Linked DNA regions of Homo sapiens: region 2 is linked to region 1. A link means that fine-mapping ties the variant in region 1 to the expression of a gene that starts in the linked region. Tissue or cell type: whole blood. Region 1 holds a variant in brackets; the other region holds the start of a gene. All regions are shown on one strand. Distances are from middle to middle.

The links. PIP is the estimated chance that this variant, and not a neighbour inherited with it, causes the effect.
Region 2: it holds the start of CFAP418, and the variant in region 1 is fine-mapped to the expression of CFAP418 in whole blood (TOPMed, PIP 0.99).

What each region holds. Positions count from the first base shown.
Region 1 is chr8:95,236,922-95,245,028 of GRCh38, reverse strand. It overlaps CFAP418 (cilia and flagella associated protein 418), which reads left to right. Exons shown (of 6, transcript NM_177965.4): 6 at 1-116. Among named protein-coding and RNA genes, the nearest start is that of LINC01298, 25 kb to the right of the region's middle. The variant G/A (reference allele first, on the strand shown) is at 3,102.
Region 2 is chr8:95,266,035-95,274,138 of GRCh38, reverse strand. It overlaps CFAP418 (cilia and flagella associated protein 418), which reads left to right and starts at 4,938. Exons shown (of 6, transcript NM_177965.4): 1 at 4,938-5,104. The coding sequence starts at 4,950. CFAP418-AS1 (CFAP418 antisense RNA 1) reads right to left here and starts at 5,303. Exons shown (of 4, transcript NR_038209.1): 1 at 5,249-5,303. TRS-AGA2-5 (tRNA-Ser (anticodon AGA) 2-5) reads left to right here and starts at 4,401; the gene lies at 4,401-4,482. RefSeq lists enhancers at 4,197-4,276, 4,313-4,952, 4,907-5,346.

The DNA.
Region 1 (8,107 bases):
CTGTATTATACTCTCAGACCCTCATCCTGCCTAGAAATGAATAAGTAATAAATAATTACTCTGTATTATTTACTTCTTTTATTTTATAGTAAAATATTCATTTGGATGGACATTAATTTGAAATCATTTTGATGTTTTTTTTTTTTGAGACAGAGTCTCTCTCTGTTGCCCAGACTAGAGTGCAGTGGTGCAATCATAGCTCACTGCTTCCTTGAACTCCTGAGCTAAAGCGATCCTCCCACCTCAGCCTCCCAAAGTGCTGGGATTACAGGTGTGAAGCACCATGCCCAGTCAAAAAAAATTTTTTTAATGTCAACAGAAAAGTTTCCAAGCATCCAGTTAAACAGATAATTTGTCTACACTGGGGAGGAGAAGTATGCCATAACTCTGATGTGTGTGTGTGTGTGTGTGTGTGTGTGTGTGTGTGTGTGTACATGCATGTGTAAAGAGAGTATGTGTGTGCATGCATGTGTAAAGTACCATGGGTATTCAAAGGAACAGGTCCAAGTTTAGGAAGAACAGGCCATGCTGACTTGGCGGTGTATACCTAGAACCTGTTCGTTGATGTCAGTAAACTTAGTACCTTTTTTTCTTAGGCCAGAGAATATGTCATCAGACTATGAATCTGAATTGCTTTCTCTCTTTTTCTTACTGATATTTAAGAATATGAAAGAAAAAGGTCTTTGTATCCAAAAGCATTGTGATGAAGCTTAGCCATGAATTTCAAATGCTGATATTTCTAATGTTTTAACAAAATCTCTATCAGCCAACCTAATGCTCCCAGTAATCAGCAATATCTCTTGTATAAAATAGTTCCTGAAAGAAAAAATTTAAAATACGCAATCTCTTTAGAGATTTCATATCTTATTGTATTTCATTGGGTTTGTGACATCATTTTGTGCCCTATTTTAAGAATGCACTAGAAAAACCAAAAAAGAAAAAAGATTGCATTAGATATGTATATATACAAGTACATGATAATTAAATTTGACTTTCCCCAAATGCCTTGAGATAAGGGATGACCAAATGAAGTTTAACAAAGTCAGAGTTCAGAGTCGTGTCCCTTAGAAAGTCACATGACATTTTGGGCTTCGTTCGCCTTAACTGTATGAATTATAATACCACTTTTGTAAGTTTGTTGTAAGGATTAAATCATATAACACATGAAAAGTGACTAGCATAGTGTTTGGTTCAGAATAGGTGCTTAATAAATGTTCTCATTCTTTTGTTATTATTATACTTTAAGTACTGGGATACATGTGCAGAACGTGCAGGTTACGTGCAGGTTTGTTAAATAATTATACACGTGCCAGGGTGGTTTGCTGCACCCATCAACCTGTCATCTATGTTAGGTATTTCTCCTAATGCTATCCCTCCCCTAGCCCCCTAGCCCCCAACCAGCCTCTGGTGTGTAATGTTCCCCTCCCTGTGTCCATGTGTTCTCATTGTTCAACTCCCACTTATGAGTGAGAACATGCAGTGTTTGGTTTTCTGTTCTTGTGTTAGTTTGCTGAGATGGTTTCCAGCTTCATCCATGTCCCTGCAAAGGACATGAACTCATCCTTTTTTATGGCTGCATAGTATTCCATGGTGTATATGTGCCACATTTTCTTTATCCAGTCTATCATTAATGGGCATTTGGGTTGGTTCCCAGTCTTTGTTATTGTGAATAGTACTGCAGTAAACATACGTGTGCATGTGTCTTTATAGTAGAATGATTTATAATCCTTTGGGTATATACCCAGTAATGGGATTGAACTTCTGGTTCTAGATCCTTGAGGAATCGCCACACTGTCTTCCACAATGGTTTGTTCTCATTCTTTTTCCTTTTAAAATAAATACTGTCTAAATTGAAGTAATAGTGCAGCATGATTCTTACAACAAGTAATTTGTAAAGATGTTTGTTTTATTTATTCCCTATGAGGAAAGCAGCAATGCGATCATTTATTTATAACTAGTGACTGTACACATGGCGACCTTTATTTTATATAAGTTGAAGCCACAACTTTTCTATTAAAAAAAAAAAAAAAGATGCTCCCCCTAGCCTGCCTCTTTCTGTGTGGCTTAAACCTAAGTGGGTCATCATGAAGGCATTCAGGCCTTTCACGATATCTTTTCAGTTTCATCTGCCTCTGCTTTCCTCCTTCTCCAACCAAACTGCGTACCTGCTGTTCTTCAGATATACTCCCTCATCTTATCCTTTCAAAATCCAACTCATTTTTCAAAGCCAGTATCTTGTACAACAGCAGTTCTCAAAGTGAGTTCCACTCTCAGGGGTCTTTCAGGTAGTCCACAAGATCAAATCTATTTTGAGTCAGAAGATATCAGTTTCCTTCTTCACTGTGTTGACGTTTGCGCAGATGGCGGAAATGGTAGCTAGCACTGCTGGCACCTGACTTAGCACCATTCAAAGCAATGATGCTATGCACCTCCCATAAAAAAAAAGCCAGTTTCAGTTAAGAATGTCCTTGATAAAGGCAGTAAAAATTATTATCTTAGCCTTCAACAACTTGTCTTTTAAATATTCTGAGTGACTAAATGGGAAGTACAACTAAAGCACTTGAGCAATTGTCTGAGTTGTGAGCTGAATGAACTGCTTTTTTCGTTGAACCCATTTTTGCCTAAAACAACAGCTGACAGACAAAAACTATGAGTACTCAGAAAAGTAATAATATGAGTCTCCTTCAAGAAAATAACTGACAGAATGTTAAGTGAAAATTAGAATTTCAAAATATTTGTATCCACTGCGAGCATGTCCCCATTATTTAAATTCTTTCCAGATAAGACTAGTGGTGATATTAACAAGCAATTTTTTATACTATATAATGAAATGTGACAATATTTGGAAGATCTGTATAATTCAGCAAACCAGTATTGCCAAAAGAACCAATACATGATATAACAAAACTATACATTTAAAATGCAAGACAGACCAATAGATTTTAACATAACTGCATGCTGAAAGTTCATTTGATATGATTTCAGTTTCTACATTGCAGCTAACTTTTAAGAAACTACTCCTTGTGAAGTTTTGATGTAGTATTGATAAATAGGTACAGTTATCTGAAAAGACTATTAAAATACTATCCTCTTTTCCAACT[G/A]TAAGTCTGCATGAGGCTGAGTTTTCTTCTAAGGCCTCAGCCAAAACAACCTATGTCAAGAGAGCGAATGAGCAGTAAATATGAGAATCCAGCTGTCTTCTGTTAAGCCAGAGATTAAACAGAGCAGCAGAAATAGAAAACAAATGTCACGCTTGTCACTGCATTTGTTTTGGAAAATGTAGTTATTTTCATAAAAATGTGATAACATATAATGGGTTTATTATTTTTAAGTATAGTCAATGTATATTTTTAATGTTCTTAGTTTTAATTACTAATACAGTAAAAATCAATAGATATAACCCCAAAAAACCAAGCTCTTGGGGTTAAGAATGTAAAAGGGCCAAAAACATACACTAAGGAAAAGACAATAAATGATGCTGGGAAAACTGGATATCCCTCTGCAGAAGAATGAAACTAGACCTCTATCTCTTGCCCTATACAAAAATCAAACCAAAATGGATTAAAGATTTAAATGTAAGACCTCAAACTATGAAACTACTAAAAGAAAACATTGGGATACACTCCAGGACATTGGTCTGGGCAAATATTTCTTGAGCAATACCCCACAACCATAGGCAATCAAAGCAAACATAGACAAATGGGATCATATCAAATTAAAAAGTTTCTGCACAGCAAAGGAGACAACCAACAAAGCGAAGAGACAACCCACAGGATGGGAGAAAATATTTGCAAACTTTCCATCTTACAAAGGATTAATAACCAGAATATATAAGGAGCCCAAACAGTTCCATAGGAAAAAACTAATAATCCAATCAAAAATGGGCAAAAGATTTGAATGGACATTTCTTAAAAGAAGACATACAAATGACCAGTAGGCATATGAAAAAGTGCTTAACATCATTGATCGTCAGAGAAATGCAAATCAAAACTACAGCAAAATATCATCTTGTACCAGTTAAAATGGCTTGTATCCAAAAGACGGGTAATAACAAATGCTGGTGAGGATGTGAAGAAAAGGGAACCCTTGTACACTGTTGGTAGGAATGTAAATTAGTACAACCACTATGGAGAACAGCCTAGAAGTTCCTCAAAAAACTAAAAATTGAGCTACCATATGATCCAGCAATCCCACTGCTGGGTATGTACACAAAAGAAAGGAAATCAATATATTGAAGAGGTATCTGCACTCCTATGTTTGTTGCAGCTCTGTTTACAATAGAAGCAACCTAAGTGTTCGTCAACAGATGAATGGATAAAGAAAATGTGGTACATATACACACCGGAGTACTATTCAGCCATAAAAATGAATGAGACCCAGTCACTTGCAACAACATGGATGAAACTGGAGATGATTATGTTAAGTGAAATAAGCCAGACACAAACATCACATCTTCTCACTTATTTGTAGGATCTAAAAATCAAAACAAGGAACTCATGGACATAGAGAGTAGAAGGGTAGTTACCAGAGGGTGGGAAGGGTAGTGGGGACCTGGCAGGGTAGGTAAGATGGTTAATGGGTACAAAAAAAAATAGGAAGAATGAATAAGACCTACTATTTGATAGCACCACAGAGTGACTACAGTAAATACATAATTAATAATTAATTGTACATTTTTAAATAACTTACAGAGTATAATTGAGTTGCTTGTAACCCAAAGAATAAATGCTCGAGGGGATGGATACCCCATTCTCTATGATGTGCTTATTTCGCATTGCATCCCTGTATCAAAACATCTCATATACTCCCATAAATATATACACCTACTGTGTACCCACAAATATTTTTTTAAAAAATTTTAAGTGTAAAAAAGTTATGAGACGAAAAAGGTTGAGAACCGTTGTACACAATCCTGATTACCCTTCCTAGGCCACCCTACCGCAGCCTAAAGATGTAATTTCTCCCTCTCCCATCTGCTTTCAGACTTTGTTTCTCATATAATACCTTGAATTGTAATTATTTGTGTGCTTATTGTATTGATCTTGGAGATTAGATTTCAAGTTCTTTAAAGTCTCTGAGTGGTACAGGGGAAACTGGGAGAGTTTTGTCACTAACTTCCTGGGATCACTGTAAGTAAGCCAGAGTGTCTTTGGGCTCATCTGTGAAAAGAGGGTTGGATTATTAAGTTTTCTTTGTTTGTTTGTTTCTTTGTTTGTTTTGAGATGTAGTTTCACTCTTGTTGCCCAAGCCGGAGTACAATGGCATGATCTAGGCTCACTGCAACCTCCACCTGCCAGGTTCAAGCAATTCTCCTGCCTCAGCCTCCCGAGTAGCTGGGATTACAGGTACCCACCACCATGCCCAGCTTATTTTTGTATTTTTAGTAGAGACGGGGTTTCACCATGTTAGCTAGGCTGGTCTTGAACTCCTGACCTCAGATGATCTGCCTGCCTCGGCCCCCCAAAGTGCTGGGATTACAGGCATGAGCCACCATACCCGGCCTCTTAAGTTTTCTTATAACTTGCAGATGGTATGAGTACTGTTCCTCTAAAAGTAGCTTGGTGCACCTGGTGTTGTCCTGTCCACACATTGGGAGATGTGATGTGTGTGGTGGGGAAGATCCCAGATTCTGGGGTCAGAGAGACATGGGTTCCAAAAGGCATCATCTATCTTCTCTGAGGCTGCACTAGAGACATAGGTAGGATTGACTTAAGAATTCAGTCTGTCCCATACAGTCCCATGAGATACAAATTGAACTAATTGTAAGAAGCAGTTGAGAGAGAAAAATGACAAGCACTTTTTCCAAGTGTGGTACTGAGAGTTATTCTCTCTCCTCTCCCAGAAGGATTGTATACCCTCACCTGTTGAACTCAGGAGGAGAAGAATGACATCCCACTCTTTGACATCCCACTCTTTGAGAATGAAAGGACCTCAGGAAGACAGTCCCAAGAAAGCCATGTTCAGTTAAGGCAGGGTGAGGGCACGAGGAGCTCACTTACCATGAAGCGGGCATTCCAGAAGGCATTTATGGCGAATAATTTGGCCAGGAGGCAACAGTGGGGGGTGGTAGGGGAGGCAGGGGATGGCAAGAGATGAGGAAGAACGAGCAGTATTAGGGTGAGAGCCTGGAAGGAACTCATATTTTAACCAAAAAACAATAGGGATCAGAGCCCTGGGGGGATTCAGCAGCCTTGATCTAACAGCAACTGGTCTCTGCTAGAACAAGGCGGTTTCCTTGTGTGATGTAAGCTCAGGCTCTGGCCCTGGGTGGTAGCTCAGGCTCTGGCCCTGGGTGGTAACCCAGGCTGCAGGGCAGGGAGGGAGGTGGGGGAGAGGGATTGTCACGTTGTTTGCATCCAGTCCAGCAGCCTACATCCTTTGCTCTCACTTTTGAGTAGAATCAATTTAAACAGAATCCAATTTGTTAGGAGACTGCGAAGTTCATCTCTGGCTAGAGAAGTACACAATACCCAAGAAAAAAATGTGTCGAAGTATTGTGTCTTTGGAAGGCCATTTCCAGGCGCTCTGAGTACTTGGGAATGAGGCCTAAGCACTAACTCTTACCAAGTCTTTGTTCATAAGAACAAGTTAGTATCAGGGATTAAGGGGATTGTGTGGTTCAGATAGATTTAAAAAGCAGGAAAGACTGAGGGTCCAGGCTTCAGTTTTGCTGGAGATTAATGCCAGAGAAGAGACATGGAAGAAACTGAGGCACAAAAACTTGCCCAAAATCACACAGGTTGTAAATAGCAGAGTAGTGTTCAGACCTAGCTCAGTTGAGTCACACAGGGCTTTCACCCTGGTATTCCCCCATTGAGCCTTGACAGACCAATAGATGAATACACTGGACTGTGAGAATATACAATCACAGTGTTACCAGAATAATACTTTCAGATATTTTGTGTGATTTTATTTAGAGGAACCAAGATACAGTGCCTGACTGTAGCTGTGTCTCAGGTTGTCTTCCCAATGCTCATGGACAGGCAGCAGATGAACAGTATGAGAAGGCCAGGTTAGGCACAGCAGGAAACAGTTCAGTGACCCATGAGTCAAGTCTGCCATGGGCTCAGGGGTGCGGAATGAGAGACTGCCATGGGTTTGCTAACACTGGCAGTCTCGGGACTGGGGGCTGGGTTCTTGTCTAGCTCAGTGCTTCTCCACTCTGGCCTCAGATAGAGTCAGCTGGAGAGCTTTAAAAAGTGCCAGTAACCCAGGCTTTAGGCCCAGAAAATCTGATTCATTAGTCTGCAGTGAGACCCAAGCATCGGTACTTTTCAACAACTCTCCCAATTATTCTAGCGTAGTACAGCCAGGGTTACAATCCACTAACAGCAATAAGACCTTGGGCATATCACTTCCCTCTTTGGGCTTTAGTATCCTCACCTATTAAAAAACAATTCTCTAAGAGTCCTTACTGCCAGTATAAAAATATGAGGTTATACTAAGTGATTTTTAATGTCCCTCCCAGAATAAAAGTTCCATGAATCTCTTTTCATAATGTAATCATTCAGAAAAGATTATTTCATTTAGGTTGAGTGTGTATTATGATCAATGTTTCTTTTAGTCCCCTAGAAACAGTCAATGCCAACTTCAAGGTTTGAGTTCCCTAATGACCAATTCACTTTACACAGAAAAAAGTAACAGCCTCCAAAGGTTGACAATACCAATTCCTCCCACTAGGAGAAGTATCTTAGAGTGCGTGGCCCTCTAGAAAGTGAGTCACTGGCACCATCTTCCATTGCAAAGAGCAGCACTTATTAGCAATGTTAGATAGAAAGCAGGACTCTAGAAAGTGGATGGAAAAAATAAAGAAAGTACATAACATAGAAACCATTTTAAGTTCTTAGAGTCAAGTAAAATTGACATTCACAGGTATGTAGGAAAAATTGTAAAAGATCTCTCAAAGAATATAATGTTTTATCCTTACATAATTTTTTGAGGGATGGGGGATTAGACAAGAGTTTTCCCCATGGAGTAAGGTATATTCTATCATAAATAGCTATAGCCTCAGCCTCTGGTGGTGGAAGGACCCCACAAACGCTTTTCAAGTCCCTTCCATCTGGCCTTGGTTTTCCTCCACAGCTGACTATGCACTAAAGGACTTCTT
Region 2 (8,104 bases), 29 kb before region 1:
TTTTCAAATTACCAAGATAATAGTATCCCAGTGAGAGTTGTGATTAGTCTAAACTCTCCACAGCTGTGAGAGATGAATGTACAAATTCCAATAAAGATTCTGCATGTTCTGGGCTGAATTTACCTACATGACATCGAGGCCTAATTCAGGGACCACTTAAAAGAACTGGAGCTGCTTCGGTGCTACTCCATTCTTCCATGGCATCAGCTGCTAGGAGGCTTGCAACTGATCCAGGAGGATGCCTCCCCTCATGCCAATGTCACCGCCCACCAGTGGGTATTTGTTTAAAAGGCCTGCAGTATGCAGGGGAAAGATGCAGGGAAGGGAAAATTAAACCTAAGTACATGGGAATTCAAAGAAGCCTTGCAATTCATTATGTGAGCAGCCAGGGAGATTACAGAACACCTTGTAACTGAAGCAGTTGGCCTGAGGCGGCGTGGGACAGCAGAACCAGCTGCCTCACCACCTCTAACTCATTTATAATGGTGCTAGCAAGAAACCAGGCTCAGAGAGTTCTTCAGATTCTTGGGAAAGCCAACAGTGCTTTGGTTTCCTAATTTGGACACCTTTTACCTAAAATACTTCCTTGAATACTAAGTGAATGTAATAATACATGACATGCCCCTTTACCATGTTTTTTGTTTTGTTTTTAAGACAGTCTCATTCTCTTACCCAGGCTAAAGTTCAGTGGCACTATCTCGGCTCACTGCGGCCTCCACCTCCTGAGCTCAAGCCATCCTCCCACCTCAGTCTACCACATACCTGGGACCACAGGTGCAGCGCTGCCATGCCTGGCTAATTTTTGTAATTTTTTTGTTAGAGACAGCGTTTTGCCATGTCACCTGGGCTGTCTCAAACTCCTGGGCTCAAGTGATCCGCTCGCCTTGGCCTCCCAAAGTACTGGGATTACAGGCATGAGCCACGGCACCCGGTCTCCTTTACCATGTTAATAATTGTATCACCTGGAGGCACTTGCCTATTCTTTACGAAATACCTGACACTCAGCATGCTTTCCATGACTGGGAAAGACAGGGGACAAGGATTCACGACATTGTCTACACACGTTAACAATTATGGAGAAAGAAATAAGATTGTTAGTTAAACAGAAAGTTATACCAAAGGAATTTATAGCCCGGTTTAAAAAAAAATGATCTAATAGGATTTGCCTGAATGTAGAATCTTCTAAAGCCACACTACCTTCATCTTATACATCCACATCCATTGTTTAGAGCCCACTGAATTTTTAACTGTATAACTTTCTTTCTGACATCTGGAGATTTTAATAGTGCACTGTAATTTTACAGTTTATCACACAGCCATACACATATGTTACTCTTATGTGACATATGGCATTTCTCCTTGTAGACTCTGAACTCAACCTTTCACTCTCGGTGGCAAACCAGAAAGAGAACATGACTCAAGTCAGGAGACCCACCGGAGAGTTGAATGAGCCATAAATGAAATTCTCAAAATACCAAACTCTGGATGATCCATACATCCATTTTATTAAAATGGGAGTGGGCAGGAATGGAAAACCAAGTATCATATGTTCTCACTCGTAAGTAGGAGTTAATTTATGGGTACACAAAGGCATACAGAGTGGCATAATGGACACTGGAGACTCAGAAGAGAGGAGGACGGGTGAGGGGTAAAGGATAGTAACACTATCTATTGGAGGCTGGGTGTGATGGCTCACGCCTGTAATCCCAGCACTTTGGGAGGCTGAGGCGGGCGGATCACCTGAGGTCAGGAGTTCGAGACCAGCCTGAACAGCATGGAGAAACCCTGTCTCTACTAAAAATACAAAATTAGCCCGGCATGGTGGCACATGCCTGTAATCCCAGCTACTTGGGAGGCTGAGGCAGGAGAATCACTTGAACCCAGGAAGCAGAGGTTGTGGTGAGCAGAGATCAAACCATTGCACACTCCAGCCTGGGCAGCAAGAGCAAAACTCCGTCTGGGAAAAAAAAAAAAAAAAAAAGAACACTACCTTTTGGGTATAATGTACACTACTCGGGTGACAGGTGCACTAAAATTTCAGACTTCACCACTATACAATTCATCCATGTAACCAAAAACCGCTTGTACCCCAAAAGCTACTGAAAGTAAATAAAATCAATAAAATGAAATTTTAAAATGTAAACGGAATAAATTATCCAATCAAAAGACCAGAAAAATGGGAGTAGAAGTGAGGGAGCGAGGGAACACACTAATTTTTTTCTAATATACACAAAAAACAAAACACAGAAAACCAGAAACATTTTCTCTTTTATTTTTTCACCATCTCTCATTGCAAATCTTCTACACGCTAATAGATTCTTTTTTTTTTTTTTTTTTTTTTTTGAGACGGAGTCTCGCTCTGTGGCCCAAGCTGGAGTGCTGTGGCGCGATCTTGGCTCACTGCAAGCTCCGCCTCCCGGGTTCACGCCATTCTCCTGCCTCAACCTCCCGAGTAGCTGCCAGTACAGGCGCCCGCCACCACGCTCAGCTAATTTTTTGTATTTTTAGTAAAGACGGGGTTTCACCGTGTTAGCCAGGATGGTCTCCATCTCCTGACCTCGTGATCCGCCCGCCTCGGCCTCCCAAAGTGCTGGGATTACAGGCGTGAGCCACCGCGCCCGGCCGCTAACAGATACTTTCAACATTGGTACAGATCCCCTCAGATTTCATCTTCTCAAGAGCAAAATCAAATCATTAATGTAAGCCTGTTAAACTGGATGGCCACTAACTATGACTTCCCCTGGAACCATGTTGCAAGGACCGCTTTTTCAAGCAGCTTTTCCTTGCCTTTCTGCTAGAGACCGGTTCTAGGTAAAATCGCCCAGCAAGGCAACTTGGAAAAAAACTTTAAAAAATTAATTAGTTGGAAATCATAGAATATGCCAGGATTCTAGACAAATAACTAGTGTCCGAGTCCCCTCCTTGCCCCAACATTGTCTCCCCACCCTCTAGAGTTCTCTACTCTGACTACAAGGGTAATACATGTCAGGGTGCCTCTAGGATACTACTTAAGCATCCTGACAGTGTCTGATCTGAGTGGTCAGTGCTCAATGTTAAGTATTTTGCATAAAAATGCTAGTTTCCCCTGTGTGTGTAAATATACATATATGTTTATATGCATATTTGTGTGTGTGTGTGTGTGTGTGTGTGTGTGTGTGTTTAGGCCAGGATTCTAATAGCTAAAACAAAGATTCAGAGACAATAAATAGAGCAGCCCTGCAGAAAAGGGGAGTGTTGCCTTGCTGAGAATATTCACAGTTGGTCTGATGGTAACATGGGGTGTTCTACTAAATGACAGTTTGATCTAGATGATTTGTTTGTTCAAAGTATCTTTCATCTCCTAGGGATAAAAAGCCCTGCTTTGTCACATTTGCAATTTCCCTCATGTAAATAACACCCACTATGGCTCATTTCAAGCTTCCCAAGTGACATCACTGAATGGAAAGTTAAAGAGAGAAAGTCTTTCAGATGTAAACAATCTCAATTATATTTATAAATAATAGTAAAAGGTAGTGGAATCACTAGCATATGAATTTTGAGTATCATATTTGCTTTTAACATAATGTAATTGCAAGTTTGCATAATTTAATATTTAATAATAATTGCATTTAACAACTAGCTCCCAAAATCCTTGAAAATTTATCACTGGGTAGGAGTGAGCATGTCCCATTGGCTCCAGCACACCACTACATGTTGCTCTTCAGGGACCTTAAAAGATACTTTGAACAAACAAATCATCTGGATCAAACTATCTCCAGAGTTCCCAAGGGTGCCAACCTCTTTGCTACCCCACTTTAGAAATACCCAAAACACAGGTTAAACTATGCACAGTATTTATTAAGAATGCCATTTACAATACCTTACACTTGTATCACGCTTTACACTTTTCAAAGTAGTGCTTTTATGGCACGGTGGGACTGTCTGACCCTGCAGAGTGAATTTAAATCGCTGGGTAATAGCTTTTTAATGTATAATGGGTGAAAAGATAGTCCTGGGAGCCGTTTGTCAAAGAGAAAGGCGAAGGAGTGGAACTGGCAGCCCCACAAGGAAGTCGGGAAGCTGGTTGGCCCCTACCCGGTTCCTGGTTCTCTCCTGGAAATGGCTCCAACATTGTGCAAGCAAGTGGGTGTGCAATAGTTTTGAGCACGCATCTCTCTCTCTGTCTCTCTCTCTCTCTCTCTCGGATTTAATTAGAATTTCCGTTTTTTCCAACAAAGAGTTGGACGGGATACGTTCTAAGACTTTTACAAACTGTAAAATGATGAGCGAGGTAACATTCAAATATGCTCTTAACAGAACAGCTCAGTAATGGTTTCCTCCACATCAAAACGTGCCTATTGCTGCAGCAGACGCTTATGCAGAGTCTACATGCACTCTCACCGCAAAAATTCACACAGCCAGTAGTCGTGGCCGAGTGGTTAAGGCGATGGACTAGAAATCCATTGGGGTCTCCCCGCGCAGGTTCGAATCCTGCCGACTACGGGAATGTCAGCTTTTTGCCGTCAACACTTACTTTTTGTGTTTTAGAGCGTTCTGCTCAAACCTTCCACAGATTTCAGGAATTTACAAACGGCTGAAACACAACAGGGACCCAAACGGGAGAGGAGAGAATGAAGGGGCGAGAATGCGTGCTTGTGGTTACAACGTGGGCCCGGGAGGGGGAGACGGGAGGAACCACGCCAGACATGCTGAAAGGAAGAAACGCAAAGCATCGCGAGTCACACAGACACACTGCAGAGACAGCTCCGAACTCTGTCCCTGCATACGCCCGCCCCTCACGAACCCACCGCGTTCTCTGCCGCGAGCCCTCGTGGGCGCCGGGTTGCCACGGGAAGCGGTGCGCATGCGCGGGGACGCCTAACGGGGCAGGAGCCCGCCAGGTCCCCTCGTTACTCCTGGAAACCACCGGAGCCTTGGCGATTGGAGGGGAAAAGGCCAGGCGATTCAAGATGGCGGAGGACCTGGACGAGCTCTTGGATGAAGTCGAGTCCAAGTTTTGCACACCTGACCTTCTAAGACGGGGTATGGTCGAGCAGCCCAAAGGCTGCGGCGGCGGCACCCACAGTAGCGACCGGAACCAAGCCAAGGCGAAAGAGACGCTCAGGTTAACCGGGCGGGAGGGGTGGACTGTTCTGGTAAAGCCCTGCTCCAGGCCCTAGAGCTGCCCCTCCGCCGCCCAACCCAAAAGAAACGTGCCCGCGACCTCCAGCCCCTCCTTGCATCAGGGTTCAGACCCTCAGCGCCCTACCCTCCGCGGCAGCGCATTCGTCGACCCTCTTCGCGGATTCTGGCACCTCTTCACTCAGCGCAGACTCCGCCCCCCGGCATGCCCCAGAGGGCTGGCCCCCGCCCCGCCCCGCCCCGCCCCGCCCCGCCCCGCCCCGCCCGCAGAGCCCGCAGTCCGCGCCAGTCTCCTTCATCCTGTTTCTGGCTGCCAGCGCGTAGGAGGTTCTAGTCGGGGACCGGGATACCCCTCAGGCGCCCCGTTCTTAACCCCGAGAGGGCTGTGCTGACCTCGGCCGCATTTTGCCTCTGTGTGGCCAAGCGGTTCTCATCTCCCTGTGAGGTGCCCTGTTAGACAGCCTCATCCCATTGCCTCAGACCCCACTCCCCAGGTCAATCCTATTTGTCTTTAGCTCAGTTTTGTTGTTTTGTTTGTTTTTTGAGATGGAGTCTCGCTCTGTCGCCCAGGTTGGAGTGCAGTGGCACGATCGTAGCTCACTGCAGCCTCCAACTCCCGGGTTCAAAGATCCTCCCACCTCGGCCTACCCTAGCTGGGATTACAGGCACGAGCCTGTAATCTGGGATTACGTAAACTGGGATTACAGGCACGAGCCCGGTTAATTTGTATTTTTTGTAGAGACAGTCTCACTGTGTTGGCCAGGCTGGTCTTGAACTCCTGAGTTCAAGCTGTCCTCCCGCCTCTGCCTCCCCTAACTGCTAGGATTACAGTTGCGAGCCATCGCACCTGACTCAGTTTGTTTTATTTTTTTAACTCAGGGAGTTAAGATGAGATTAAATTCATTACAAAAGGGTTAATTATTGTGAACATTAAACCGTCTACCTTCCTTCTCTCCATGGCCCCCTAGTTAAGGGTGCCAGACATACATATGGAAATTTAAGGACATTTCTTAAGGTATTTTGGTTTTTTATCTAAAAACTACCTTTCAAATTTACCAGTCGTTTTTCCTCCATGTAATTATTAAATAATAGGATTTCCTTCACTTCCTCATTTCCCCCACAACCCCTCAAAAAAAAAAAACAAAATGTTTGCATAAGAATATTGACCTTCAGTAACTCTTGCTAGAATCTTTTGGAAATTGCCTCTTGCCTAGAATATTTTGGAAACGCTTGTGAAATTACACGGAGGCAACTTTGGATCAATCTAAGAACGTCATCTCCGTTAATTTTTTTGCTGCATCTTTGGTTTGGTTTTGGTTTTTTGGTGTGTGTATGTGTGATTTCCCAAAGTATTATCCAACTCTGTTACTATCCAGTTCACCTGGCTTACCTCCAGTGATATTTATTTATTTTATTTACTTATTTATTTATTTTTGAGTTTCGCTCTGTCGCCCAGGCTGGAGTGCAGTGGCCCACCTCAGCTCACTGCAAGCTCCGCCTCCCATTCCCCTGCCTCAGCCTCCCGAGTAGCTGAGACTACAGGCGCCCGCCACCACGCCTGGCTAATTTTTTGTATTTCTGGTAGAAACGGGGTTTCACCGTGTTAGCCAGGATGGTCTCGATCTCCTGACCTCGTGATCCACCCACCTCGGCCTCCCAAAGTGCTGGGATTACAGGCATGAGCCACCGTGCCCAGTCAGTGACATTTATTTATAAAAATTCACTCTGCGAAGATAAAAGCATCGAAAAAATTCTAAAGGAGTACATAAACAAAATTTCTAAAAATTAGTTGAGTTCTGAGCAGCATTTTAAAACAAAAATTAGAAACAACTATAATTACTATGAATGGGCTAACACTCATTTGGCTGGATGTTGTAAATATCACTCTCATTAACTTTTATTATCTTGTGTACTGGAATTCCTTATGTATCTATTAGCGCATCTACCATCCCTATCCCACAACAGTGTTGCTTTGCAATTTCTTTAGTACTTTTCGTTTGTCCTTCTAGGGGATAGAACTAGTCTATCAAGGAGCTTTTCAGAGCTGTTCATCTTAGGAGAACTAGCATGCGGAGGGGCAGGATGTATTGAAGCCAGCTGCTCAAAATGGAAAGGACTATTTATGTGGATCTTCTCCAACCATGGGTTGTGTCATGCCTGTTCTTGCTCTACTAAAATTCATCCATAATATTTCTAGTACCTCAGCCCACCTTAATACATTAGATTTTTTTAGTACTAAGTAACATAAAAGCCTTAGTGAAACAGTACTGTTGTCATTTATATTAAAACTTTTCATCTGGCAATGTAGTTGTAAATTGTACAAAAAACAGCAACAAAGGGCCTAAACCTTATACCAAATATAGTCCCAACCTGGTTTATAATGTTATATATTAAAATTTTTCCTTGAGCCAAAATTTATACTTAAAAGCTAGGAAGCAATTTATGTTTGAATTTATTGACAGGAGATTACCTACTAATTGTATAGCAGTGTAACCTGTATCTCTTATAAGAGTTAAAATACTAATATTACCTCTTAAAATGATACTATAAATGCAAATAATACTATAAATGACCATGCTACATCTGGATACCAGGAACAACTGCTAATGTAAGAGGTCAAAACATGCAATTTGTTGAAGTGTTCAAAATGATAAAAAGAAATATGTGATTAGTAAAAAAATTAAAAAAGACTGATGTGGGTTGAGAAGAACTGCAATAGGAATAAAGTGGTTCAGGATGATACAGATGGGAATATTTAAAGATAATATAGCTTTCTAGATGATAACTATAATAACAGCCAACATTTATTGAGCTCTTTCTGTATGCTAAGTGCTTTGTATATGTTATTTCATTTAATCTTCACAATCCCATGCGTGAATACTGTTATCCCCATTTCATTGACCAAATCAATGCTTAGTTACTTGCCTAAAGTCATATTGCTAAATCACAAGGACATAGTAGATCTAGATTTAAGCTTTCTATA